Linked DNA regions of Homo sapiens: regions 1, 2, 3, 4 and 6 are each linked to region 5. The links come from fine-mapping of genetic effects on gene expression. A gene starts in region 5. Each other region holds a variant in brackets. All regions are shown on one strand. Distances are from middle to middle. Region 1 overlaps MCF2L (MCF.2 cell line derived transforming sequence like). Region 2 overlaps MCF2L (MCF.2 cell line derived transforming sequence like). Region 3 holds the start of LOC124903214 (a long non-coding RNA gene). Region 4 overlaps LOC124903214 (a long non-coding RNA gene). Region 5 holds the start of MCF2L (MCF.2 cell line derived transforming sequence like). Region 6 overlaps MCF2L (MCF.2 cell line derived transforming sequence like).

Region 1 (4,086 bases), 120 kb before region 5:
GATGAGAACAGACGCCCACCCTACTTGCTCTGAAGTATGAGGCTTTTTTTTTCGGGGGGCGGGGGGGGGGGCGGGGGAGTGTTTCTTTTTTAAAACTACTGTTCTACGGATTATTTATTTAGGCCATATCCTGTTCCATGAATGATTAAAGGTAGCTTATATAAGAAACAGGATAAAGTGAAAAAAATAAGTGGATGAACAAAATAAAGAAAAAACAAGGGCAGAAGAGACACGACGAAGCCACGGTCAGGGTCGGAGTCTGAAACGTGCCCACGTGTGTGCTGGGCCATCAGTGCCGGCTCCCAGCTGAGCCCCGACTGTCTGAGGAGTGCTGGGGCGTGGCTGTGATCTGGACAGGCCATGTGCGCACTGCCGTGCTGTGGAACAGCCCACCCCGGGAAGAGCTGGAGAGGGACTGGGCATTGTCGGAGGCACACATCTGTGAAGTACACCCTCTGGGACGGACCCGTCAGCACATAAACACCAGGGGCCTCAAGGAAAACCCCAATAACCACAGGGTCCCACTGACAGAGGCCGAGGACCCTGGCGTGCAAATGGCCTGCTCGGGACTGCTCCAGAAACGCAGGCCTGCGGCAGCGTGTCCATTCTCACCTGGTGCTGGTCGGGGCCGGCAGGGGCAGGCTCTGTGACTGCTCCAGCGCCCGGTGCTGGCTGGCTTCTGCGAGGAGGGAGCAGACAAACCACGTGAACGAGCGTCTTTACTTCAACGCCGAGGCACCTTGCGCATGGGGGGACTGTGCGGTTGCTCTGAACATAGGTAAAAATGCACCTGGAGCGGAAGCTACGGGAAACGATCGCTTGAAGACAGCCTCACCTCTACAAGCCTGCAGCTGGCTGGTCAGCACTTTCCGAATTTCATTCACCCACGCGGCTTTAATCTCAGGAGTTGGCGCCTGTTTCCCCAAAAGAAACGCCAGGAGGTGAGTACTCAGGCCCCCGAGGAAACACGCTTTGGTTTCACTCTCGGAACATCCAAAGATAATCTTAGGAGTCAAAGGTCAGGTGGCTGCGTGTGAGGGGAGAGGAGGAAAGCACTGTGGGTGGCCCCGCATTGCGGGACCCTCTGTGCCCCATGCACGGGACTGACTGAAGAACTGTGCCTGGCACCCAGGGCACGGCACCCTCCCCACCGTGAGAATCGGCCCTGCGTGCCAGATGCACACTTGCACCGTCCAGGGACACATGAGCTCCCCTGGGGAGGGAGAGCCCGTTTCCTCGCAGCACCCCGTCTGATGTGTACTTTTCCCCACATTTCATTCTGGGTCCAGCTCAGGGTGAAGACAGCCCAGGGCAGCATCCTGAAGTGTACAGCGGCTGCTCCTGGGCTCGATGCAACTTCATGGCAGATCCTTGCACTGGTTCCCATGAGAAACCATTCGTGGCAATGTGTAAGAGGCCAGGGGTAGGGTGGGTGGCCCACCTGGACGATGTAGACCTCCTCGCGCGCGTTGTACCAGATCTCGAACTTCTTAGCATCTCCCTTCACGTTCTCCGTAATGCCAACGGCAGCCATCTGCGAGCAGAGAGTGGAGATGGGGTTCGCGTGCACAGTGAACCCACTGCCTTGTTTTTAAAAGGTGTTGGTGCAGGCACGAAATGATGGAAATACTTTGGGGGTGAGGGCTAAGAATGGCAGAATACCCCACCCCTACACCTAAGGCTGAGAGCTGGGTGTCAGCGTGGCCACCTCAGACCGAGTTACAGACTTCCCCCGTCGGGGTCTGTGGCCAGGAGCGTGCTGCTGCAGACCCGGCCTCACTTACGTTTAAGGACTGCTTGTAGCTGTAGGAGGGAGCTTTCTCATACCCCTCCCCATTCTCCTCCCTCTTCTTGCAGAAGAGCACTGCCTTCTCGTGCAGGAACAGGTGCCGCTGCATGGGCTTGAACCTGGCCAGCTCCTTCACCTTGGTGTGGCCCCTCTTGTGGTCGGTCCAGACGCTGAACGAGCCCTGCATCAGCAGCTTGCCCAGGTCGCCGAGATTCCCCTAAATGTGCGACAGCAGGGCTGTGTTCAGGACGGGATGGGCCTGGGGCCATGGACGCGCATCGCTGAGTGAAAGCAGCCACTCTGCAAAGCCCACCCACGGTGGGATTCCAGCTGCAGGGCGTCCCAGGAAAGGCAAGCTCGTGGAGACTGACAGGTCAGCAGGTGCCAGGGGCTGGGGGAGGAGGGATGGACTGGCGGGGCACATGGGCTTCTAGGACAGTGAAGCTGCTCTGTGTGATGCTCTAGCGCTGGGTGTAGGATGTTACAC[G/A]CCTGTCCAAACCGCAGAATGCACAGCACCCAGAGTGAGCTCCAAGGGGAACGGCCCTCAGTCACTAATCAGCATCAGCGCTAGTTCACCATGTGTGGCAGGTGTGGCACCCATGCTAAATGTCAACACTAGGGGAAGCCTCAGGGCCTCTGATTTATACTCAATTATCTCACAAACCAAAAATTGCTGCAATAAATCAACTCTATTAGTTAAAAAAAAAACACCTGAGAATGAGTGCTGGGTGGACATAAAGACGGACAAAAGATGAATAAGCTGTGACCTGATGTGGGGCTCTACGGGGAAAGTGACATCTGCCTTCTGGGGCCACTTGCTCTAAGTCACCAGCCTGCAAATCGCAGCCCAGAAAACAGAAGTCACGTCTGCTCCGAGCCACGCCTCCTCCCCAGGAGAAGACAAGGAGTGAGGAGGTCTGAGCTGCGTTCCTGCTGGAGATGCGTGCCCTCCAAGCAAGGGACGCTTCCTGATTTTCTCCACGTCCCAGAGAGCCCAGTGGGGTCTGTGGACCCGGCTGTGGGGTCTGTGGACCCGGCTGTGGGGCCTGGGAGTGGGCTTATCTAGGGACCACCCCAGACCTCCTGCCCAGAACCTGCACATTCACACCAAAGCGAGGGGCGTGTGCAGGGAGGCCGCCAAGTTGCTGGGCTGGTGTATTCCACGGAGGCGGCGGGGAAGACCGGGCATCTGGGCGCCTTACGTCATAGCCGGTGATAGCGATGAGGTGCATGGAGTCGTTCACGGCCTTCAGGATGCCCAGGATGGAGCTCAGCGCCTCCTGCAGGTCCTCAGCCCCCTCGCAGTTCCTGCTGTATTTCAGCATTTCCTGAGGGGCATGGGGTGAGGCAACCGCGTCGGGACACGGAGAGCCCTGGCTCCCCTGGAACAGACCCCTCAGGAGCTTGGCACGAGGTAGGGATGCTGCTCACCCTCCCCTGGTCTGTGGGGAGCTGCCCTGCCTGCCCTCCTGCAGCTGGGACAGACTGAGTGGTGCTGCAGATGGGGCAGCACCCCTGCCAGGTGCAGACCCTTGGCACCTGCTCCCCGGGGAGCTCCCTCCTGCCACCCGGATGCCAGGTGCAAACCCCTCGCACCTGCTCCCCGGGGAGCTCCCTCCTGCCACCCGGATGCCAGGTGCAAACCCCTCGCACCTGCTCCCCGGGGAGCTCCCTCCTGCCACCCTGATGCCAGGTGCAAACCCCTCGCACCTGCTCCCCGGGGAGCTCCCTCCTGCCACCCTGATGCCAGGTGCAAACCCCTCGCACCTGCTCCCCGGGGAGCTCCCTCCTGCCACCCTGATGCCAGGTGCAAACCCCTCGCACCTGCTCCCTGGGGAGTTTCCTCTCGCCACCCTAACCCTGGCCAAAGGCATGGAGTTGCAGTTTCCTGCCTGAAGGTTAGAGGGACCCACATGGCAAACTCATAGCTGGAATCCCCAGTCTAGGCCGCCCCACGTCCCTGCTGTGTGCCAGATAATCCGGGCACGGCTCCACCCTGGAGGGACGGGTCAGCACATCACACAGAATCCCATGTGGGCTGGGCTGTGTGCCAACCCATGGGGACGGGGACTCGTCTGCTCACCTGCGTCCTCAGACCCCTAACAGTGGCGCACAGTAGGACCTCGAAAGGCATCCCAGCCTCAGCACAGGCTCGGAAGAGGTGCCCTTGGCCTGGGAGGGGCAGGGCGCGATGGGGACGGGGCCCCAGGGCGGCACAGACACCTGGCCAGCAGGTGCTGGGGAGGCCGGGCCACGGTCACCGCGGAGCCCACCTTGAGCAGCAGCTGGTACTTGGT
Region 2 (4,086 bases), 110 kb before region 5:
GGCGTGGAAATAATTTCTGTGTTGAAAGGAAAATTCAGCTTGACCTCCCAACTGTGTGTTTCTCTCATATGCCTATTATTTGGTAGTAATTCATTAAATGGGCCAGGTGCGGTGGCTCACACCTGTCATTCCAGCACTTTGGGAGGTTGAGCTGGGTGGATCACCTGAGGTCAGGAGTTCGAGACCAGCCTGGCCAACATGGTGAAAACCTGTCTCTAATAAAAATACAAAAATTAGCCAGGCTTGGTGGTGGGCGCCTGTAATCCCAGCTACTCAGGAGGCTGAGGCAGGAGAATTGCTTGAACCTGGGAGGCGGAGATTGCAGTGAGCTAAGATCGTGCCACTGCACTCCAGCCTGGGCGACAAGAGCGAGATTCCATCTCAAAAAAAAAATAATAATAAATAAATACAAATAATTCATTAAATGATTCTTTCAAACTTCCCACAGAGGAATGCCTCACTGCTCGGGACAGCAAGCTGCAAATGGAGAGCCCGAGTCAGCGTTACCATGAGATCTTGGTTGAGGATGGATTCGTATTCCTTGTAAATCGCGTTGAGCTCCTGGATCTTATTTTCCGCACCGGTCTCCAAAAACTTCTCGATTTCCTGGAGGGCAGCCTCCGCGCCGTCCTGGGACTGGCACTTGTCCACAGGTTGTGAGGCCAGCAGGTAAATCCCTTCATCACACCACTTCATGGACTGGAAACACAGAGCATTGCCGAGGGCAGGACGCCGTGAGAGGGTGAGAGCGTCACCCTGTCCAGGCACACACTGCCGGGGTGTCCTCCCGACAGATCCCGGGCCACCGACTCCTCGTGCTCCCGCCACCCTGTCCAAAGCACCCCAAGGGGACACAGTGCTGGACAAGGCCAATCCCAAGGGGACACAGTGCTGGACAAGGCCAATCCCAAGGGGACACAGTGCTGGACAACACCAGTGAATTACCCAGGGCGGGGCCTGGAGAGGCAGGGTAAGTGCAGTAGGATCAACCAGGCCTTAAGCTTCTGGATCTTTTAAAGAAATCATTATTGGCTGGGCAGGGTGGCTCACGCCTGTAATCCCAGCACTCTGAGAGGTGAAGGTGAGAGGATCACCTGAGCCCAGGAGTTCGAGACCAGCCTGGGCAACATAGTGAGACCCCATCTCTATCACACACACACAAAATACAAGAATTAGCTGGGTACGGTGGCATGCACCTACAGTCCCAGCTACTTGGGGGCTGAGGTGGGAGGATCCCTTGAGCCCAGGAACCAGAGGTTGCAGTGAGAAAAAAAAAAAAAAAGAAATAAAACTGTGGCAAATGAATTCTAGAAAAAGACCCTCTAGGCCAACAAGACCAGAAACGAAGGGTGCAAGGACATTTTCCAGCCAAAGAGCTGCCCTCCCCACGACAAGGGTCAGCCGGTGGTGGATGTGGGAGGAAGAGGCTGGTTCCGCAGCTGGGGGGGAGTGGGGTGGGGTCCGGCTCGGCCTACCGTCTCCAGGCGGCGGTGCAGCTCCAGGGACTTGCTGAGCAGCCCCCTCCTCCTTGCGATCTCCGCAGAGAACTGGTCACAGAGGTGCCGGAGCTCCTGGCACTTTGGGCGGATGGAGTCTACCGCGTAGTGCTTGTTCCCAATGAGCTGCTCGCCGTCCAGAGACAGGGCCCGGGCCCTCTCCACGGCCACCTGTGGACGGCCACCCAGAGGACCAGCTCAGGCCTCTTTCTGTTCGAGGCACACAGTGCCTTGCTGTACGGGATGTGTGTCCCGGGGCACACGTGTGTCTTGATTTCTTTGTTTACTGCTGCGGATGCCTGAGATGCTGCTTAATCCCCGAAGCTGTTCTGTGGCAAGTGCTTCTGGGGGCTGTGGTGGTCCCAGCAAAGGCATTGACCGTCTGCAGGGA[C/A]CTGACCCAGAGGAGGCCGGGCAGGGCCATGTGCTGTGGGTGGGGTGTGGGAGGGGAGGGGTACAGGCAGCAGCACCCCCCACCCCATGGACATCCCCGGGGGGCTGTGGGGTCCGTTCTCCGTAGGCGGGAGGCCCATTCCTGCGCCTTCCTGAGCAGCACTTGATGATGCTGCCCACACTCTCCCGCCGCCCCCGCCGGGACCCCGCCTTACGCCTGATTTCTCCTCGAAGCTGGCCAGGTCCCTCAGCAGGTGCTCCACATGCGCCAGGCTGTTGCCGATGTCTGTGAAGGTTGCTATCTTCTGGGACGCTGCGTCCAAGATGGCTTTGACCTGGAACAGAGGAGGGCCCATCTCAGGGGGGTGTCTCCCTCACCTGAACAGAGAGAACCCACTCCAGTGCTCCAGATCAGGGAAATGACAGAATTCAAAGTCGGGCCAAGTGGTCATCAATCAAGCAGGGACCACAGTCAGACAGGTGCAAAGTCGGCCCCGAGTGGTCACCAATCAAGCGGGGACCGTGGGGCCTCTGGGTCGACGCTACCCACCAGTGACCTCACTGGCAGAACAATTGTTTCTCTGTGGCTTGTGTGTGCCTCCGTTTATCAACCACACGCCTGAAAACAGCATGAGGAGAAGATGAGATCACGCAAGGACAAAGGCCCTGGGAGCCGAAAGCCAGCAGCAATATGGACACTGGAATTGTCAGCATTCCTACTGGATCCTAGGTGTGGAGAGTTATGTAACTCAGTCCCTTCTAGCTTGCTACTAACTTCTAATGTCTACGATTTCTGCTGTTGGCAGGAAGACAATGGGTGTCATAGAAATGATTTTTATTTTAATTTTTAATTTTTTTTTTTTGAGACGGAGTTTTGTTCTTGTTGCCCAGGCTGGAGTGCAGTGGCGTGATCTTGGCTCACTGTAACCTCTGCCTCTCTGGTTCAAGTGATTTTCCTGCCTCAGCCTCCCAAGTAGCTGGGATTACAGGCACCAGCCATCACGCCCAGCTAATTTTTGCATTTTTAGTAGAGATGGGGTTTCACCATGTTGGCCAGGTTGGTCTTGAACTCCTGACCACAGGTGATCCACCCGTCTTGGCCTCCCACAGTGCTGGGATTACAGGTGTGAGCCACCATGCCTGGCCTGATTTTTAAAACATATGACCACTTATTCCTTTAAATACAAAAGCTTTTAATTTTTGTTATTGGAAATGATCCTGAGAATGGGTGTGTACGCAGACATCCCAGTGCCAAGGGGGTTGTAGTTCAGATGGCCTGGGGTTGAAGGCCAGGAAGGCAGGATTCTTGTCCATCCTTGAACCCCCTGCATCTGGCACAGCTGATGAGTGAGACTTCTCTCCATGTTACGCACAGCCACTGAGTTATGGATAATGCACCACCTCTCAGAAACTAGCTCGGATATAGAAGAACTCAATACCATCAACCAACAGGATCTAACTGATATGTATAAAACTTCACCTAACAATAGCAGAATACACATTCTTTTCAAGTGAGGAACATATACCAAGAAAGACCATATTCTTGGGCTGCAAAACAAATCTCAACACATTTATAAGAACAGAAATCATACAGAGTATGTTCTCTGATTACAATGAATCAAACTTGAAATCAAGAATGGAAAGACAACGGGAAAATCTCTGAACACTGGAAGCCAAACAACATACATTTAAAGAATGGATGGGTCAAAGAGGAAGTTCCAAGGGAAATTGGAAAAAAAAAAAAAAAAAGCTGGAGTAAATGAAAAAGAAAATACAATACATCAAAATTTGTGGAACACAGCTAAATCAGTGATGAGAGGGAAATTTATAGTGTTCTTATTAAATATGTATGTTAGAAAAGAGGAACAGTCTCAAATAAAGAATGTAAGTTCCCACCAAAGCAATTTGTAGAAATAATAAAGGTAGGATCAGAAATCAATGAAACTGAGAACAGAAAACAACAGAGAAAACTAATGAAACAAAGAACGAGTTCTTTGGAAAGATGAGGAGTGATACATCTCAATCTAGATTGACAAAGAAAAAAGGAAAAGATGCAAATTACAAATATCAGAAATGAAACAGGGAATATCACTACAGACCCTGCAGACGTCAAAAAGATAAGAAAGAATACTATAAACAACCCTACACATTGCCTTGAAAAGCACACTACTATATCTCATTGTGAAACAGATAGTTTCAA
Region 3 (4,086 bases), 38 kb after region 5:
CAGAGGAACCTCCGAAATTCCAACCACACAGACCTCTCTGCACACAGAGCCCAAGGAGACGGCAGCCTGGGCGTCTCTGAAAGTCCCATTGGATCAGACACACAACTGGAGCCAACCCCTGCGGGGCCAGCGCCCGGACCTCCAGGAGGCTGTGGGTCTCCCAGAAGGCTGTCGGCCCAGCACTCCTGCTCCTCAGCTTGTGGTTAAGTTCGTTTCTTTCTTTTCTCCTTCCTTCCTTCATGTTTATTTATTTATTTATTTATTTATTTTGAGATGGAGCCTTGCTCTGTCACCCAGGTTGGGGGGCAGTGGCACAATCTTGCCTCACTAAAATCTCCACCTCCTGCGTTCAAGCAATTCTCCTGTCTCAGCCTCCTGGGTAGCTGGGATTACAGGTGTGTGTCACCACACCAGGCTAATTTTTGTATTTTTAGTAGAGACGGGGTTTCACCATGTTGGCCAGGCTGGTCTTCAACTCCTGACCTCAGATGATCCACCCGCGTTGACCTCCCAAAGTGCTGGGATTACAGGTGCCAGCCACCGCACCCAGCCAAAGTCGTTTATTTCTCTTTTGCTAAAATACAGATACCTATGAGGGGCCACACAGGCCCACTGACGGTACTGAGATGCTTCTTTTTTAAGTAACTTTGTTTAGCTTTGTTTAGAACAGCTTTAGATTTACAGCAAAACTGACATAGAACAGGGCTCCCACACACCCCTCCCCCAGTGTCCTCCAATATTCATATCTTAAGCTTATGGTGCCTTTGTTGCAATTAATGAGCCAATATTGGTACATTATTATTAACTATGCACAGTTTATTCAGGTTTCCACAGTTTTTGCCTAATATATTCTTCTGTTCTAGGATTCAGTCATCCTGTCTCCTTCAGCTCCTCTTGGCTGTGACAGCTTCTCAGAGCTCCCTTATTTTTGATGACTTTGACAGTTTTGAGGGCTACTGGTCAGGTATACTGGAAGCCTCTGTTGGAACTCTGACGTCCTTCTCATGATTGGAGTGGGGAGGATGTGCTTGGGGAGGAGGACTACAGAGGTAAAGTGCCATCCCGGTCACGCCTTACCCAGGGCACGAGTCTACACGCCTGGTCGCCATCGGTGCTGACCTCGATTGCCTGGCTCAGGTCGTCAGGTCCTCTGCTGGGAAGTTACTCTTTCTCCCTCTTTTCGTCTTGAACTCTTCGGAACCACATAGCTGCGCACATCCCACACTCAGGAAGTAGGGTTCTGAGCTCCCCTCGTGACAACAACTCATCTACATGAAGGATGGGGAATTCTTCTGCAAGGGAGACTTATCTCTTGTCTCCAGTCATGTATTAATATCTATTCAATCATTTACGTCAGTGTGGACCCACGCTTCTTCATCTTGTTCTTGGGGTTATAATACAACGCGACTTGACTTTGCTGCTCAAATTGTTCTGCTTTGGTCATGGGGAGTGTTCGGTGGTTCCTGCGTCCCTCTGGCCTGCCCCCATCCACGTGGGTTTGGGTTTTGTTTTGTTTGTTTTGTTCCTCCCTTTCTGTCACTGTAAGATGATCCAGTCTCATCTTGCATACTTCCTGCCTCCATCCTGGAATCTGCGGTTTCTCTAAGAAGCCCAGTTGCTTTTACTGAAGAATGGAATTAGAAACCAAGATCTGGCCACTGGGGACGCTCGTGGACACTGGCTGCTGCTGCTTCCAGGCCCTCTCAGCTGTCAAGGTGAGGAGAGGCAGGCGTGTGCTATGGGATGTGCACAGTATTTCTGTATGTCGCCACCTGTATCTGCACTAAGCTAAGCGTCAGTTCACACTGACGCCGCACACCTGCTCTGTTACAACACGGGTGTAGCCTCTCCTGGAACAGTGAGAAAGCAGCTCCCATCCGCAGACAGCTGCTCACCTAATCGCTCAGTTTCAGCTTCCGGCAGAGCAGCGTCAGCACTGCCGACCTGTATCTAC[G/A]GGAAACGACGTAATTAAGTGGAGCCTGGGGCGTTTGTGTGGCTTCTTTTGCCTCTAGTCTCACAGACCCCACTCCTGCCCAGAGTCACGCAGGTCAGCACCCTGTTCCTCTTCTTCCGTGAGGCGGTTTCATGCATCTTCAGCACAGGTTGGCTCTCTGCCTCCTGTGCAGGCAGGAGAAAGGGATGTGGAAACACAGAGTGCCACTCCCTCCCCACTGGGAGGCCCCAGAAGACACAGCCAGGACTCTGAACCTCTGTTTGTCATCTGCACGCTGAACCGCTCAGGTGAGAGGCGCGTCCTGGCTCTAACACGCTCCAGTAAAGCTGGCTTGTGTCTCCTGGTTCCTGCATTCCTTCCGGGGACCCCTCTGACCTCCGAAATGATTTTTACTATTTATTTATTTATTTGAGACGGAGTCTCACTCTGTCACCCAGGCTGGAGTGCAATGGCGTGATCTTGGCTCACTCCAACCCCTGCCTCCTGGGTTCAAGCAATTCTCTTGCCTCAGCCTCCTGAGTAGCTGGGATTACAGGCACGCTCCACCATGCCTGGCTAATTTTTGTATTTTTAGTAGAGATGGGGCTTCACCATGTTGGCCAGGCTGGTCTCGAACTCCTGACCTCAAGTGATCTGCCCTCCTCAGCCTCCCACAGTGCTGGGATTATAGGCATGTCCTAAATAATTTTTAAATTTGCAGGTATTAAGATTTACTCTGTGCTGTGCATCTGTATGGGTTTTGACAAATACATGATATCATATACAGTAGTTTCACTGCCCTAAAATCCCCAGAGCTCCACCTACTCACCCCTCTCTCCTCTCAGCAACTATGGATTTTGTCACTGTCTCCATAGTTTTGCCTTTTCCAGAATATCACAGAGTTGGAATCATACAGTCTGTGGCCTTTTCAGATTGGCTTCTTCCTCTTGGCAATAAGCATCTAAGTTTCCTCTATGTCTCTTCATGACTTAGCCCATTTCTTTTCACTGCTGAGTAATATTCCATCATCTGCATGGACCACAGTTTGTTTATTCATCTACTGAATGACATACTGGTTGCTTCCAGGTTTTAGTGCTTGTGAATAAAGCTCCTATAAACACTTATGTGCAGGTTTTTGTATGGACATGTTTTCAACTAGTTTGGGTAAACACCAAGAAGCAAGATCACTGGACTGTATGGTAAGAGTGCATTTAGCTTTGGAAGTAACGGCCATACTGTCTTCCCCACTCCCTCCGCTCCATCCCAGTGAACGAGAGCTCCCCATGCCCTGTGTCCTCGCCAGTACCAGGCGTTGTGAGGTTTTGTGGAAGCCGATGCTCTAACAGGTGTGTAGGGGCATATGTAACTCTCTAATGACAAATGATTCTGAGCATCTTTTCTGGCACTGGTTTTTATTAGAGCGTTATCCCAGCAACGGCTTTCAATGACAAATGGGAAGAATGAACGTCACAAAACAGGGGTCATCTGGGAAAGAAAGGATCGCCACAAACGGAAGAAAACAACAAGCAGCCAACTGCTAACTCAGCCACAGTGACCGTCCCAAGTCACTTCCCGAGCCTGTGGTCACTCCGCCATCCCGACCATGCAGTCCGTGATGCAGGCGTCATCATCTGCTTTCTGCAGAAGAGGAACCCGAGGCCGGAGGTTCTGGGCAGGGTGCTCAGGATGCTGTGGCCAGCGGTAAGGGGCCAGGGTCTGGAGCTCCACCCACCTGGTGATTCTGACACCTGCTGTGGAGGGGCCTGAGGGCAGGGGCAGACTCCATGCACTTCACAGATTTCATCAGGAGTGTGAAGAGTTAACCTGGAAATGAGTTTCAAATGAACTCCCTGTTGTTTTTCCCAAGTGGTTTTACTAATGCATTTAAGAGAAGGCGGAAAGGGCAGGCTCCCATCCCGATAAAAGATAAATGGCTTTATCCCATTTCCTGGCCTATAAGTGGCAGTGTGCCAAGAAGACCAAACTGCTGACAGCGTCCTGCAGCCACGAAGTTGAACAAACCGCAGCGTTGCTGCAGCCGCGCAGGAATCGGGGAAAGAGATTCACATTAAGGACAACCACGAATCCAGGAATAAAGAGCAAACACCCCTTTGAAGAGGGAGACCCAGTGGCCATTTATGGAACCAATATAA
Region 4 (4,086 bases), 46 kb after region 5:
GCTTTCTTGTGTGGTTTTGCTTTATGTTAAGATTCCTTTACTAGATATAGGAACATGCACGGAGCAGTTTATCACATCAAACGTATGTATGTACCCAGTGACCACTGCCCAGGTCAGCTAAAGAACATTTCTAGTACCCCAGGAGGCTTCCTGGCCCCTTCCCAACCAATATTTCCCAAGAGGTAGCAGCCATTAATACTATGACCACTACCAGAGAAGCTAGTTTTGCCTGATCTTGAGATTGATGTGTGAACTGCAGGCATGTTGTAGTGGTTTATTTCTTCTCGTGTAGCTTTGTGGGGTATGAATATGATGCCCTTTATTTAACCCGTTTTCTCTTAAGGCTCCTAGAGGTTAGGGTGTCCAGCGTGGGGCTCCTGGGCATCAAGCTGCTGTGAACGTCCACATACGTACACGTACAGAAGTACTCCTTCCTTTTGGGTGCACAGTTAGGGTGGAATCGGAGGGCAGGCACATGCTTAGCTTTAGACCCTGTCCATGTTTTCCAAAGTGGTCATAGCAATATGCCTTCCCACCAGGAAATGTGAGCACTGGTATCCCACTTCTGCACCAACCACTTGGAATAGCCAGTCTTTAATTTTAGCCACTCTGGTGGACGAAGAATGGTACCCTATTGTGGTTTTAATGTACATTTTGCCCTTGAATCATGATGCCAACCACATTCTCATATGCTTATTGGATATGCCTATTGGATTACTTTTTACATTTAAATCACAGGTCCATCTGGTACTTATCCAGGTGAAAGGTGTGAAGAAGACCTGACTTTCATCTTTTTCCATGAGGCTATCCAGTTATCCCAACACCATTGATAACCAAGGTCATCTTTTCCAGCACGAAATTTACATGCTGCCTTGAGCTACATGGATCTTCCCCAGGCAGCCTGATTTGCTTCTGGATTTTTATTCTGTTCCATTCACCTGTCCTTGTTCTTATGCCAGGATCCACACCATTTTCATTAAAGAGGCTGTATAGAAAATTTTAACGTCTGGGCAGCCCATTCCCCTCTGATACTCTCCAGGGTTTTCTCAGGTGTTCATGTTTGTTTCTCTAAGTGGGTTTTATGATCAACTTGTCTAGCACCCTGAGAAAGAAAAAGATGATGTGTTTATTGGGGCTCCTTAAGTGTATGCATTAATTCAGGGAGAACTGATGTCTTTGTCATGTGGAGCTTCCCTATCTAAAGCTATCATATACCTTTTCCATGTGTTCAAGTCTTCTGTGTCTCAGGAGTATTTTATAGTTTTCCTCGTATCAGCATTTATTAAACGAGAATGCTAAAAACAGAGGTACTTTATTTTTGCTACTATAAATATTATCTCTCCCATTAGATCTTCTCCTTGGTTTTTGTTCCTACCTATGATTTCTACATGTTAAGCAGCAGGGTATAAAATTTATTAATTCCCTTATTTTTTTGTAGCATTTTATCCAATGATTATTTTGGGTTTTCCAGAAATGTAACAACTGCATACGGAGAAATTGAAAATAGAGATAATGAAAAGGAAAAGGTAAACTCCCGTGTCTGTGCTGTCTCTGTAGCCCAGCTGCGTGTGGGGGCACTCTAACGACGACACATCGTGGGGGGGTTGTGGGGAGCTTCACTCTGTTCTTGGCTTCAGTGGGAGAGCTTCCAGCATTTCCTGCTGAGTAGGATGCTGGCTTTGGGGATAATGTGTGTGCGTATTTTTAGGTCATGTTAC[A/G]GAAGCTCTCCCTTCTTAACCATGTCGTCAAATTTAACACCACCAGTAACGGGATAAACCGGTCTCGTATGCTTCCTGATAGGACGCTCTGGGAAGGACACATCAGCATTTCTGGGCCAAAAATGCATCTCCTGGATTTAGCAATAAACATTAGACAAACCCCAATTTAGGAATGTTCTACAACATAACTGGCCTGCCCTCTCCAAAGTGGCGGTGTCATGAAACAAAGAAATACTAAGGGGCTGCTCCAGAGTAAAGAAAGATAAAACACAGGACAACTGAATGCAGCTCCTGCTCCAAATTCTCATGCTCCTGAATTTTCTTTTGCTTTAAAGGACATTTAGGGGGACAACTCATAGACTCTGGATCTACATACAAAACAGCAGTGATTAGAGAAGAGTGTGTTGAAGTTAATTACCTATTAGGTTGCTGCAAAGGTAATTGTGGGTTTTGCCATTCAAAGTAATGGCAAAAAACAAACAATTTGGAGAATTATACTCTAGTTTTATAAGCAAACAAATATATTTGTTAAGAAGTAAACACTGGCCAGGTGCGGTGGCTCACACCTGTAATCCCAGCACTTTGGGAGGCCGAGGCAGGTAGATCACCAGGTCAGGAGATTGAGACCATCCTGGCTAACACGGTGAAACCCCATCTCTATTAAAAATACAAAAAAATTAGCCAGGCGTGGTGGCGGGCGCCTGTAGTCCCAGCTACTCGGGAGGCTGAGGCAGGAGAATGGCGTCAACCCAGGAGGCGGAGCTTGCAGTGAGCCGAGATCTTGCCACTGTACTCCAGCCTGGGTGACAGAGCAAGACTCCGTCTCAAAAAAAAAAAAAAAAAAAAAAAAGAAGCAAACACTGAAGTTCATGGAGATAAAAGGGTAGCCTGTCTGTCACGTACTCTCTGACACCTAGAAAATAATAATGTATATTTGTGTAATATGCACACATGAGAGAAGAAAGCAAACATGGTGAAACATAATATTGAGGAATCTGAGTGTCTTATATACGAGAATTCTTTGTGCTACCCTTGCCATTGTTCTGTACATCTGAAATTGTTAAAATAAAGGTTACAGAAAAAAGTATCCACCAATTCCTATGACTGGATTTCTTTTAACATAAAGAGGCACCGCATTTGTCGAGTGCTTTTTCCACATCTATGAAACTTACATGATTTCTCTCTATGCATTAATGGATTCTAATGTTAACCATCTTTGCATTCCTTGAATAAACCCCTAATTGTCACGATGGTTTTTGTTTGTTTGTTTGTAGAGATGGAGTCTTGCTCTGTCGCCCACGCTGGAGTGCAGTGGCACGATCTCAGCTCACTGCAACCTCCGCCTCCCAGGTTCAAGCAATTCTCCTGCCTCAGCCTCCCAAGTAGTTGGGACTACAGGCACGTGCCACCACGCCTGGCTAATTTCTTCTGTGTTTTAGTAGAGACAGGGTTTCACCGTTTAGCCCAGGCTGGTCTTGAACTCCTGAGCTCAGGCAATCTGCCCGCCTCGGTCTCCCAAAGTGCTAGGATTACAGGCGTGAGCCACTGCGCCTGGCTGATGGGTTTTTTTTTTTTTTATGTGTTGTGAATGCTTTCAGATTTTTACTTCAATGCTGAGAAATGAGATTGAGATCAGTCCATAGTTTATTTCTGCCAAAGTACTATGTTGCCAGGTTTGGGGATCAATGTTGAAATCACTACATAAAGTGACATTAAAGGACAGAAAAAGAAAACCTCACAAAGCAGTTTAAGTTGCACTGAAATTGTATGATCTTTAGAGATCTGGAAGACGTTCTGTGTGGAATAATCTGGCTTGCTCTTTCGGGGAAGAGCTCTTTCCTTTCCCCATTTATTCTAGACTTTGGCTCTATCAGTATCAAATTTGGAAAGCTGTAATTTTCTGAAAAACTATCTGTTTCTTCTACGCTTTCAAATTTATTGAGTTTTGGTTGTACAAAGTCGACTACTATATAAAGTGCCCTCTGGCAGGGGCTGCTCCCGGCCCACACGTTTCCAGCTCTGGGCCTCTGGACTTTTCCTCCATTCACTGTGAGCTGGGGCCTCATGTGTCTCTTTCAAAACAGCTTTTAGATTTATTATTTTTATTATTTCTATCCTTATTTTCTGCTTTTATCTACTTTTTGTGGCTTGTTTTATTGTTCTTTTTCTACCATTTTTATGTAGGTATTTGCATCCTTTTTACATTTTTACTGATATAAGTATTGATATAATCCTCCTGACACTCTCTCCTGCCATATTTCATAGATTTGCTAAGTTGTGTGTTGTACTTTTAGGAACTCTCCACTTTAGCTGGCATGGCCTCCAACTCAAAGGCTGCTTAGCGGCATTTTTGTTTTGTTTCTTTTCC
Region 5 (4,086 bases):
ATAAAATGCCTGTGGGTTGGGGGTGAATCTACAGAGGGTGAAGCTCTGCACAGCTGAATGAGGCAGCTGCTCTAAGGCCAGCCGCTGTACGCAATCCCTCAGCTGTGACCTAGCCCCGCCACTGCCCTGAGGACCTACACCAGCCGCCACATCAGTGTCCTGTTGCCATCAGCTTTTACCTGGCACGGATCCTAGCATGACCCCAGAAGGAGAAGCAGCTCCATGACCTCCCGCTGAAGAGTGTTTGGCTGCAGGTGGGGAACTCTCCTGAGGAAGTGCTTGGAATTTAAACCCGAGGTGGGGATCAGGTTTACCTTGACCTTCACCCCTACCAGAGAATGTGCACCACATACCCGTACACTCTGTGGTAGCATCATGTCAATACTGCATCATAAACCCCCTCATGATGGTTTTACAGCCTTCAACCTAATAACTTGCCTCCGCTGAGCAGTACCTCACACAGCGTGAGCAGAAAATGGGTTTGTGCTGAAGGAAGAGGCCAGTGTTAATGGGTGGTAAGTGGAGTATGATGCAGGGTCACCTCCCCTAACTAAACGCTACAGGGTGCTCATAACCGAGGATATCTGGTAAGCTGGACTTGAAAGTCCTGGTGAAGCATGCAATTATCGGTAATGCAGATGTGTGGGAGGACGCACATCTCACTGCCTGTTCCAGATGAGACGATGGCCCACACCGAGCGCCCGGCTCGCACGACATTCAGTGAGCAGACAGTGTCACTGCTGCTCTTCTGAGATAGCCTTTTTCCAATTAAAAATGCGCACATGTCTCTTGGAGCTCATGAAGAAACCCCAATCCCTAAAAACCTGGGGAATGACATCAGCCTCTGGAGCGGTTCCCACTCTGTGACTCTGACACCGAACGGCACGCAGAGGCATGCAGAGCAAGGGGGGCTTTCTCCTCCACCCCCACAGCCGATCGGAAGCCTCCCTGTGAACCTGGCATCCACGCAGCCCTTCACCATACTCAAACCCTGCAAACCCTGCACGGAAAAGCTCCACTCAAGCTTCAGAAAAAGAGCTGATTCTCTAAGAATCAGGGAGCAGACGGCATGAAAATGGTTTTGTTTTCTTTCGACCCACATACAATAAACCCAGCAGCTTTGATCATAAAAGCCCCCATTAAAAACATCTTGATTAGACCATCCCATACGATGGTGCTTATGCTGATTTAATCACTGGTTCACTCTCAGAATCCATCGGGGTGGGCAGAGAAAGAGAACCACACCCAAACCAAGCAACTGACATTTTAATCTCCCAGGCAAGTACTAGTTAGACAACTAGTAATGGCATATATGACATAACATATGGCAACATCAGGCAAAACACTTGGCAACTTACTTTTAATGATATATCATTATTTCCTCTTCATTTCAAGGAAAACGAGTTAAGGATGCCTCTCCCTTCTGCATAACACAGCCTGAGAACTCAGATGCGACCGCCTGAAAGCCACGGCCAGATGCAAGCTGTCAGCCCAGTCTCTGCTTACACCTAAAAGAATCGATCTGAACTACTCTTCAAAGCTTATTTGAAGTAATATTTCGATTAATACTGAAAATGAACGTCCAGTCCACTCTTTACCCATACCGTCTCAAACATCTGTCTTAGGTTTAAATTGCATTTAATGAAGAAAAGAACCACCTGATTAGTCCAGGTTTTTTCATCCTCAAAACGAGCTTCCAGGTAGCTTCACCATCCCTACCCCTGGCTCTGAAACCCCAAGCTCTGAAAGCCCTTGGCTCAGATCATTCTCCATTCGCAATGCATTCTCCATTGCGAGGGCTGCGGACAGGCAGGTTGATGGGCAGACTTCAGACACACAAATGGCTCCGCATGCAGACCCAGCAACCCTGAGAGAGCCAGTGTCACCAACGTGCAGTCATTTTGACTATCCCGGGCAGCATACGATCGCCGACAGCCTCTGAAAACACACCAGCTGCCAACCAGTGCCCCCCATGTCACAGCTACCACGGCTAGAAAGGAACACGAGGGCGGCTTACAAAAATCAGACGCATTTCCCCACATTTCAGCCCATGATGTCAAGCTTAAGCACAGATCACTGACGGCCAGCAGCTCCTCCTACCCGTGTGCTTGGAAACCGCATTTAATCTCTGCACCATTTCTTCCAAGGCCATCTCTTCAGTCCTCAGCCAAAACCTCATCCTCCGACACAACAAAAATGATCCTGGCAGATCCGCTTCCTCCGCACGGGGGGCGCCTGCGGGTGGGGCCGTGCGAGTGCGGAGGGGGCGCGGCGGAGGCGGGGAGGGGGCCACGGCAGCGCTTTCAGCCTCCAGCCGCCGCCTCCCTGCCCAGGATTGGTTCCGCGCCACCGGGAGGGGGGCGCGCGCTGCGCCGCGGGGGGCGGGGGGCGGCTCGGCGGAAGCGGAAGCGGCGCGCGCCCGCCCCGGTGTGTCACCACCGCGGGTCACCTGGGAGTCCTGTGAGTGCACCGCCGGGGTCACCTGGGAGCCCCGCGTGTCACCGCCGCGGTCGTCGGGGAGCCCCGGGGCTCACCAACGAGGTCACCTGGGAGCCCCGCGGGTCACCGCCGCGGTCACCTGGAAGTGTCACCTGTGTCACTAGGTCACCTAGTGTATCACACAGGTCACCTAGAAATTCGTGTCACCGCCAAGGTCACCTAGAAATTCGTGTCACCGCCGAGGTCCCCTGGGAGCCCCGCGGGTGCCGCACAAGTGCCCCCGCCCTTCCCCCCGGTTCCGGGTCTCCACGCCCTCCTGGTTTGCGGGCAGCCGCGAAGCCGCGAGTGGACCGAGCGAGTGCAGCTGCCTCCGCGGGGCCGCGCCTGGCCGCCGCCTCCCTTTACCTCCGGCCGCCCCGTGGCAGGTGTAGAAGCTGCAGAGGCCGCAGCAGCCCAGCGCGCCCCTTCCGTGTGGCCGCATGCCACCCGCGCCGCGCCCAGGTAAGCAGGTCCGTGGGTCGCTGGGTCCATGCGTGGGTCCGTGGCTGGCCGGGGATGGACCAGCCCCTCCCCGCAGGGGCATCGCCTGCCCAAGGACGCAGGACCCAGTGAGGGAAGCGCGCGCTGCAGGCACGGGGCTCTCCACCCTCGCCATGGTTGGCACCAAGCCACACTGTGCACTCGACACACGCAGCGTCCTGGCTGCCACCTGCAGATTCCAGCTCGTGTCTATGCAGGGCCATGGCCGCCATCACAGGGCCATATGCAAGAAACTCTCTGAGCTCTCCTCGCCCAAAACCGCAGCTATCCTTTTGTGGTTTGGTATTATAGGTAACATGCCCTTCCTTAAAGAAACAGTATTTCAGGCCTGTAGTCCCAGCTACTCCGGAGGCCGAGGCAGAAGCTGAGGCAGAAGCAGGAGGATCATTTGAGCCCAGAAGTTTGAGCCTGGGCAATGTAGCAAGACCCCCCCCCCCACCTCACTCCCCAATCAGTTAAAAGAGAGAGAGAGAGAGAGAGAATTCCAGCAGGAAGAAGTACACATTTCCACGAATGGTTTGGGAATTCAAGCATCATATGGCTGAGGTTTGAACTACAGCTCATGCCAATAACATGTGCACATGCGCCAGCATTCCAGCGTCCAACAGAGCATGCGTGCACCATTCCAGCATCCGGCAACAATGCACCAGCATTCCAGCGTCCAACAGAGCATCCGTGTACCATTCCGGCATTTGGCAACAATGCACCAGCATTCCAGAGTCCAACAGGGCATGCGTGCACCATTCCAGCATCCGGCAACAATGCACCAGCATTCCAGCGTCCAACAGAGCGTGCGTGCACCATTCCAGCATCCGGCAACAATGCACCAGCATTCCAGCGTCCAAAAGAGCATCCGGCAACATCCCGGTGTCCAGTGGCACATGTGCACCTGGACGTTCCAGTGTGGTGAGCTTTCAGGCACGGAGCAAGGCCAAAGGGATAAAAAGATGAAGGTGACGCAGTACTCCCCCTTATAGTGCCTACAGGCCTTATAGGCCAGACAGATCTGGAAATAAATAATTCATAATAAAAAATAATTACAGAATAAGAGGCATAATAACCAGATAGAAAGTATTGAATAAATCTGTAAGAAATGGCTGCTTTGTT
Region 6 (4,086 bases), 92 kb before region 5:
CCCCAGTGGAGTCCCCACTCTAGACTGATACGGTATTTAATAAAACATGATGTGGTGTCAAATAACCCCTGAGCTAAACCTCAGGAGACCCATTTTGTGGTCCCGTCTGACTGCTTGCAAAGCCAAGCCTAGATTTTATCCAAACCCTGGACACCGTGGGTGGCTGTGTGGACAGGGGCGCCTGAACGCTGTGGGCAGCTGTGTGGACAGGGACGCCTGAACGCTGTGGGCGGCTGTGTGGACAGGGACGCCTGAACGCTGTGGGCGGCTGTGTGGACAGGGGTGTCTGGACACCGTGGGCAGCTGTGTGGACAGGGACGCCTGAACGCTGTGGGCGGCTGTGCAGGCAGGGGTGTCTGGACACTGTAGGCAGCTGAGCGGATGGGGGCGCCTGGACATTGTGGGTGGCTGTGTGGACAGGGGCGCCTGGCTTCGGACCTGTGTGGACCCAGATGTGGGTCCCACTCGCCCGCAGGCCAGCCGCCCACTCTGTGTCTCAGCTGCCTCCTTCGTAAATGGGCACGTTGTGCCTGAGCTCATCATGCCACGGTGAGCAGCAAATGGTGCTGTTGGAGGTGCACAAAACTCCACACGAGTGCGGCCTGTGATGGCCAAGGACATGCAACAGGCGTTTACACCTCCTCCAGCAACATCATCAAACAGTGCTCTGATGGGAGAGATGATCATTTTTGTCCCTGTTCCTGCCGAAAATACCCCGCGGTCATTGTAGACACCAGTTGAAATCAACACACCACCACTGAGGCCGGACGGGGAGAGTGGCTGGCAGTTCCCACACGGTTATGGTTATGTGGAAAACCTGTGGTTGCGACGGCCGCATAAGCTCCTCTACACACGCCTTGTCTTCATTTTTCTGCATTTCTCTTGCCCTTTTTGAGGTCACTCCATCCATGGGTTTGGACAGTCAGTCACGGCAGCAGAGGTGCCGGGGCCACTGTTCTCCCTCATGTCTCCTTTCTATGGCTGAGTCCAGCACACGGCACTGAAACACGGACACACACGTGTCAACAACTGCATCCTTCACATCATCCACTCTAATTTCAAGAATTATCTAAGTGGGGCTGTGAGTTTGAAGATGCCGGTGATTTCTGTGAAACCCATTTTGACGGCTTGCTGTGGAGCCGTTGTGCAGGGGAGCCTGTGGCATGGATGACCCGTGAGGTCGGTCTTGCTCCCCGTGACACGTCTGTGGTCACAAAGCCTATGGCTAGTGTGCAGTGCCTGCCAAATAGCAGGGAAGGAGGGCGCACGGAGTTATCTCCATCATAAGGGCCATAACACACACAAGCCACCAAGAGAGTAGCTGTCTGCGGGGCGCTGAGCTGCACAAGCCACCACGAGAGGTGCTGTCTGCAGGGTGCTGAGCTGCACACGCCATCACGAGAGGAGCTGTCAGAGGAGCTCTGAGCTGCACACGCAATGCCTAGCTCATCCTGGTGTCAGGACATGAGCCTCCCACTGCCCACGAGTCCCTGCTCTGCACGGTTTTGTCGCTGGTCGTCTCTAGGGAATGGACTGTTCAGACACTAAGGCTTCTCCAAGGCTACAAAAAACGGTACATGCACAGAGTTTCCCAATGGCTTGGAAGCTGGTGGTTCTGGGGCCACCAAAGCACGATGGCACAGAGCCCCATGGGTGCCATGCAGAACACCCTGCACCTGCAGTTACTGCCCCAGGCCAGGCACCAGGGTCACGGGTGACACCCAGAGTGGACTGCGTGGGGGTGGGCAGAGTGGATGGGGCCTTGTGACCCCCAGGGCTGTCTTGGGTAGGGGGAGAGGAGGAGGAAGGGGAGGAGGAGGGGGAGGGGGAAAAGAGGGGAGGGGAGGAGGAGGGAGGGGGAGGGGAGAGAAAAGAGGGGAAGGGGGAGAGGGAAGGGAGGGGAAGGGGGAGAGGGAGGGGAGGGGAAGGGGGAGAGGGAAGGGAGGGGAAAGGGAAGAGGGAGGGGAGGGCAAGGGGGAGGGGAGGGCAAGGGGGAGGGGAGGGGAGGGGAAGGGGGCAGTACATGGGGAAAGGCCCCAGGCCGTTTTCTTCCCTGTCAGAGAAGGGCTCTTGCACCTTTGGCATTGAGGCTGTAGCGCAACGAGGGTGGGGAGGGAGGGCTGGTGCCACCTGATTCCCAGCGCACAGGGAGTAGCTTCACAGTGAGCGACCTGCACCCCAGATTGCCTGGTTTCCAGTAGCATCTGGCTGGTGCCATGGGG[T/G]GCTCTGCGGTGCCTGGTGCTGGCCCATATGTCTCTGTTCTCTTTGTGGCAGAGAAGATGTGAGCTCGCCAAGGCAGCTGACCAGGGCTCTCCGGGGGAGCTACACAGCTCGGGCTGGTGACCGGGCTCCACAGGCTCTAAGGGACTTTGTGAAGCCTTTGTTCTTTAAAGGACAGCAGATCAGGACTGAAGGTGCTTTCTCAGTGGGCAGTGTTGGGAGATGCTGCCCTGTGCCGGGATAGTGTGGTGGCGATGGGGCAGGGGTCACCCTGTTGGCTGCTCCAGGACAGGTCCGGCCCATCCCTGTCAGCAGTGGGTGCTCCCTCCCAGGTCCAGAGATGCTTACAGCCCCCTCCCCAGCCCTTCTCTCATCCCTGGGGTGCAGGCAGGGCCTGGGCTGAGTTCCTCGCGGGTGGGCCAGGCGGACTCTCAGCCCTTAGGGTCTCAAGTTCTGTAGTTCTCCTGGGGGTATGAATGTCGCGTGACCCGCGTCCTGATGGGATGCCCACACGGTGGCCTCTCTGAGGTTGATGCTCTGTGCACCTCTGGCGGGGTGGGGGCTGGGGGCGGGGGTGGGGGAAGAAAGGATTGTACTGCTTCTGGCAGCATTGAGGAGGTGCAACTTCCCGCCAGGTCCTGCGGGGTTTTGTTGACCGTGTGGCCCTGAAGTCAGCTCCTCGAGGATTTCGATGATCACAGATGGGCCAGGACGGCAATGAGTTCCGTTCTGCTACCGCAGGATGGAGGCGGGGCGCACTTACCGGCACCTTCATCTTAAAGTCATCTCTATTGAATTTGAAAGCGATGTCGGAGAGAGTCCTTTGGAAAAAACCCGTCGGGCGAAGCACGAGGACGAGCTGCAGGTTTGCCGGGAAAGATGCCTGTGAGAGAGGGCGAGAGACAAGGGCCTGCAGCGTGCTCTGCAGACAGCAGCCCCCCTAGTGCGGTGCCTGCACGCTGGGCTGACCGGGGGCGCGCAGCTAGCGGCCAGGCATCCTCAACGCAGCAGGTTTATGCTGAGATAAACATGGTAGAGATGCTGGCCTCTGTGAAAGGCATCTCTTTTCTAAAAGAAAAGAGGAAAAGCCTCATGTCTTGGCAGAACGTTATGCTGCTTACAAATGTAAAAGTCCAAAGCTTACGACAGTTGTTAGGGGCTGAGCTGTGTCCCCCCAAATTATGATGTCGAAGCCTAACTCCCAGTGCCTCCGAACGTGACCTTGGCTGGTGACGCGGTCTTTACAGAGGTAACCAAGCTAAAGTGAGGTCATTAGGGCAGGCCCTGATCCCAGCACCGCGTGGAGAGCTCCCAGAGAATTTGCTGGTGGAGGCCGGGGCGGTGCTTCCACACCCAGGGAGACCCAGGAGGCAGCCAGACCAGAAGCTGAGGAGAGGCCTCGAGCAGAGAGACGCTCCCCATAGCCTTGGAAGGAGCCCCCTCCGGCCACACCTGAGTTCAGACTCCGCCTCCGGGGCTGGGAGGGAACAGCTTCTGTGCGCCCAGTGGTCAGTCTGTAGTTACTTTGTTACCATGGCCCCAGGAAACCAAGACACTTGTCAAATTTTATAAAAGCAACATAGACACATGTGTGTGTTACCTACAAAAATAAAAATAATCTTGTGCCCTGGTGTGCACACACGGCCTTGGACACAGTTACATGAATTTATTTGGAAACTGGCTCTGCCTCTTACAAGGCGTGGGAACTTGGGTAGGTCACTCCCCTTCTCTGTGTCTCAGCTTCTCCATTGGGAAAGTGGGGAGACCGGCAGTGCCTACTCATGACACCCTTTCGAAGATGAAATGGACCAAGGCGTGCGTGGCGTTCAGTGGACACCTGCACCAAGGAAGCGCTCAAAAGCCGCG

The links.
Region 1: its variant is fine-mapped to the expression of MCF2L in whole blood (TOPMed, PIP 0.92).
Region 2: its variant is fine-mapped to the expression of MCF2L in whole blood (INTERVAL, PIP 0.95).
Region 3: its variant is fine-mapped to the expression of MCF2L in whole blood (TOPMed, PIP above 0.99). The same link has a PIP of 0.9 or more in blood mononuclear cells.
Region 4: its variant is fine-mapped to the expression of MCF2L in whole blood (TOPMed, PIP above 0.99).
Region 6: its variant is fine-mapped to the expression of MCF2L in spinal cord (GTEx, PIP above 0.99). The same link has a PIP of 0.9 or more in hippocampus and putamen.

The regions. Positions count from the first base shown.
Region 1 is chr13:113,085,155-113,089,240 of GRCh38, reverse strand. It overlaps MCF2L (MCF.2 cell line derived transforming sequence like), which reads right to left. Exons shown (of 30, transcript NM_001112732.3): 20 at 4,063-4,086; 21 at 2,992-3,117; 22 at 1,785-2,006; 23 at 1,442-1,534; 24 at 836-914; 25 at 613-679. Among named protein-coding and RNA genes, the nearest start is that of F7, 19 kb to the left of the region's middle. The variant G/A (reference allele first, on the strand shown) is at 2,277.
Region 2 is chr13:113,072,579-113,076,664 of GRCh38, reverse strand. MCF2L (MCF.2 cell line derived transforming sequence like) reads right to left here. Exons shown (of 30, transcript NM_001112732.3): 10 at 2,102-2,221; 11 at 1,476-1,667; 12 at 508-699. Among named protein-coding and RNA genes, the nearest start is that of F7, 31 kb to the left of the region's middle. The variant C/A (reference allele first, on the strand shown) is at 1,888.
Region 3 is chr13:112,929,215-112,933,300 of GRCh38, reverse strand. LOC124903214 (a long non-coding RNA gene) reads left to right here and starts at 1,949. Exons shown (of 2, transcript XR_007063877.1): 1 at 1,949-2,241; 2 at 3,353-4,086. It also overlaps a transcript of MCF2L not described here. RefSeq lists an enhancer at 3,118-3,960. The variant G/A (reference allele first, on the strand shown) is at 1,955.
Region 4 is chr13:112,921,740-112,925,825 of GRCh38, reverse strand. LOC124903214 (a long non-coding RNA gene) reads left to right here. Exons shown (of 2, transcript XR_007063877.1): 2 at 1-2,968. It also overlaps a transcript of MCF2L not described here. Among named protein-coding and RNA genes, the nearest start is that of MCF2L-AS1, 45 kb to the left of the region's middle. The variant A/G (reference allele first, on the strand shown) is at 1,719.
Region 5 is chr13:112,967,473-112,971,558 of GRCh38, reverse strand. MCF2L (MCF.2 cell line derived transforming sequence like) reads right to left here and starts at 2,345. Exons shown (of 30, transcript NM_001112732.3): 1 at 2,101-2,345. The coding sequence starts at 2,179. MCF2L-AS1 (MCF2L antisense RNA 1) reads left to right here and starts at 2,921. Exons shown (of 1, transcript NR_034002.1): 1 at 2,921-4,075. RefSeq lists a silencer at 2,410-2,469 and an enhancer at 2,671-3,190.
Region 6 is chr13:113,059,610-113,063,695 of GRCh38, reverse strand. It overlaps MCF2L (MCF.2 cell line derived transforming sequence like), which reads right to left. Exons shown (of 30, transcript NM_001112732.3): 5 at 2,984-3,103. Among named protein-coding and RNA genes, the nearest start is that of F7, 44 kb to the left of the region's middle. The variant T/G (reference allele first, on the strand shown) is at 2,223.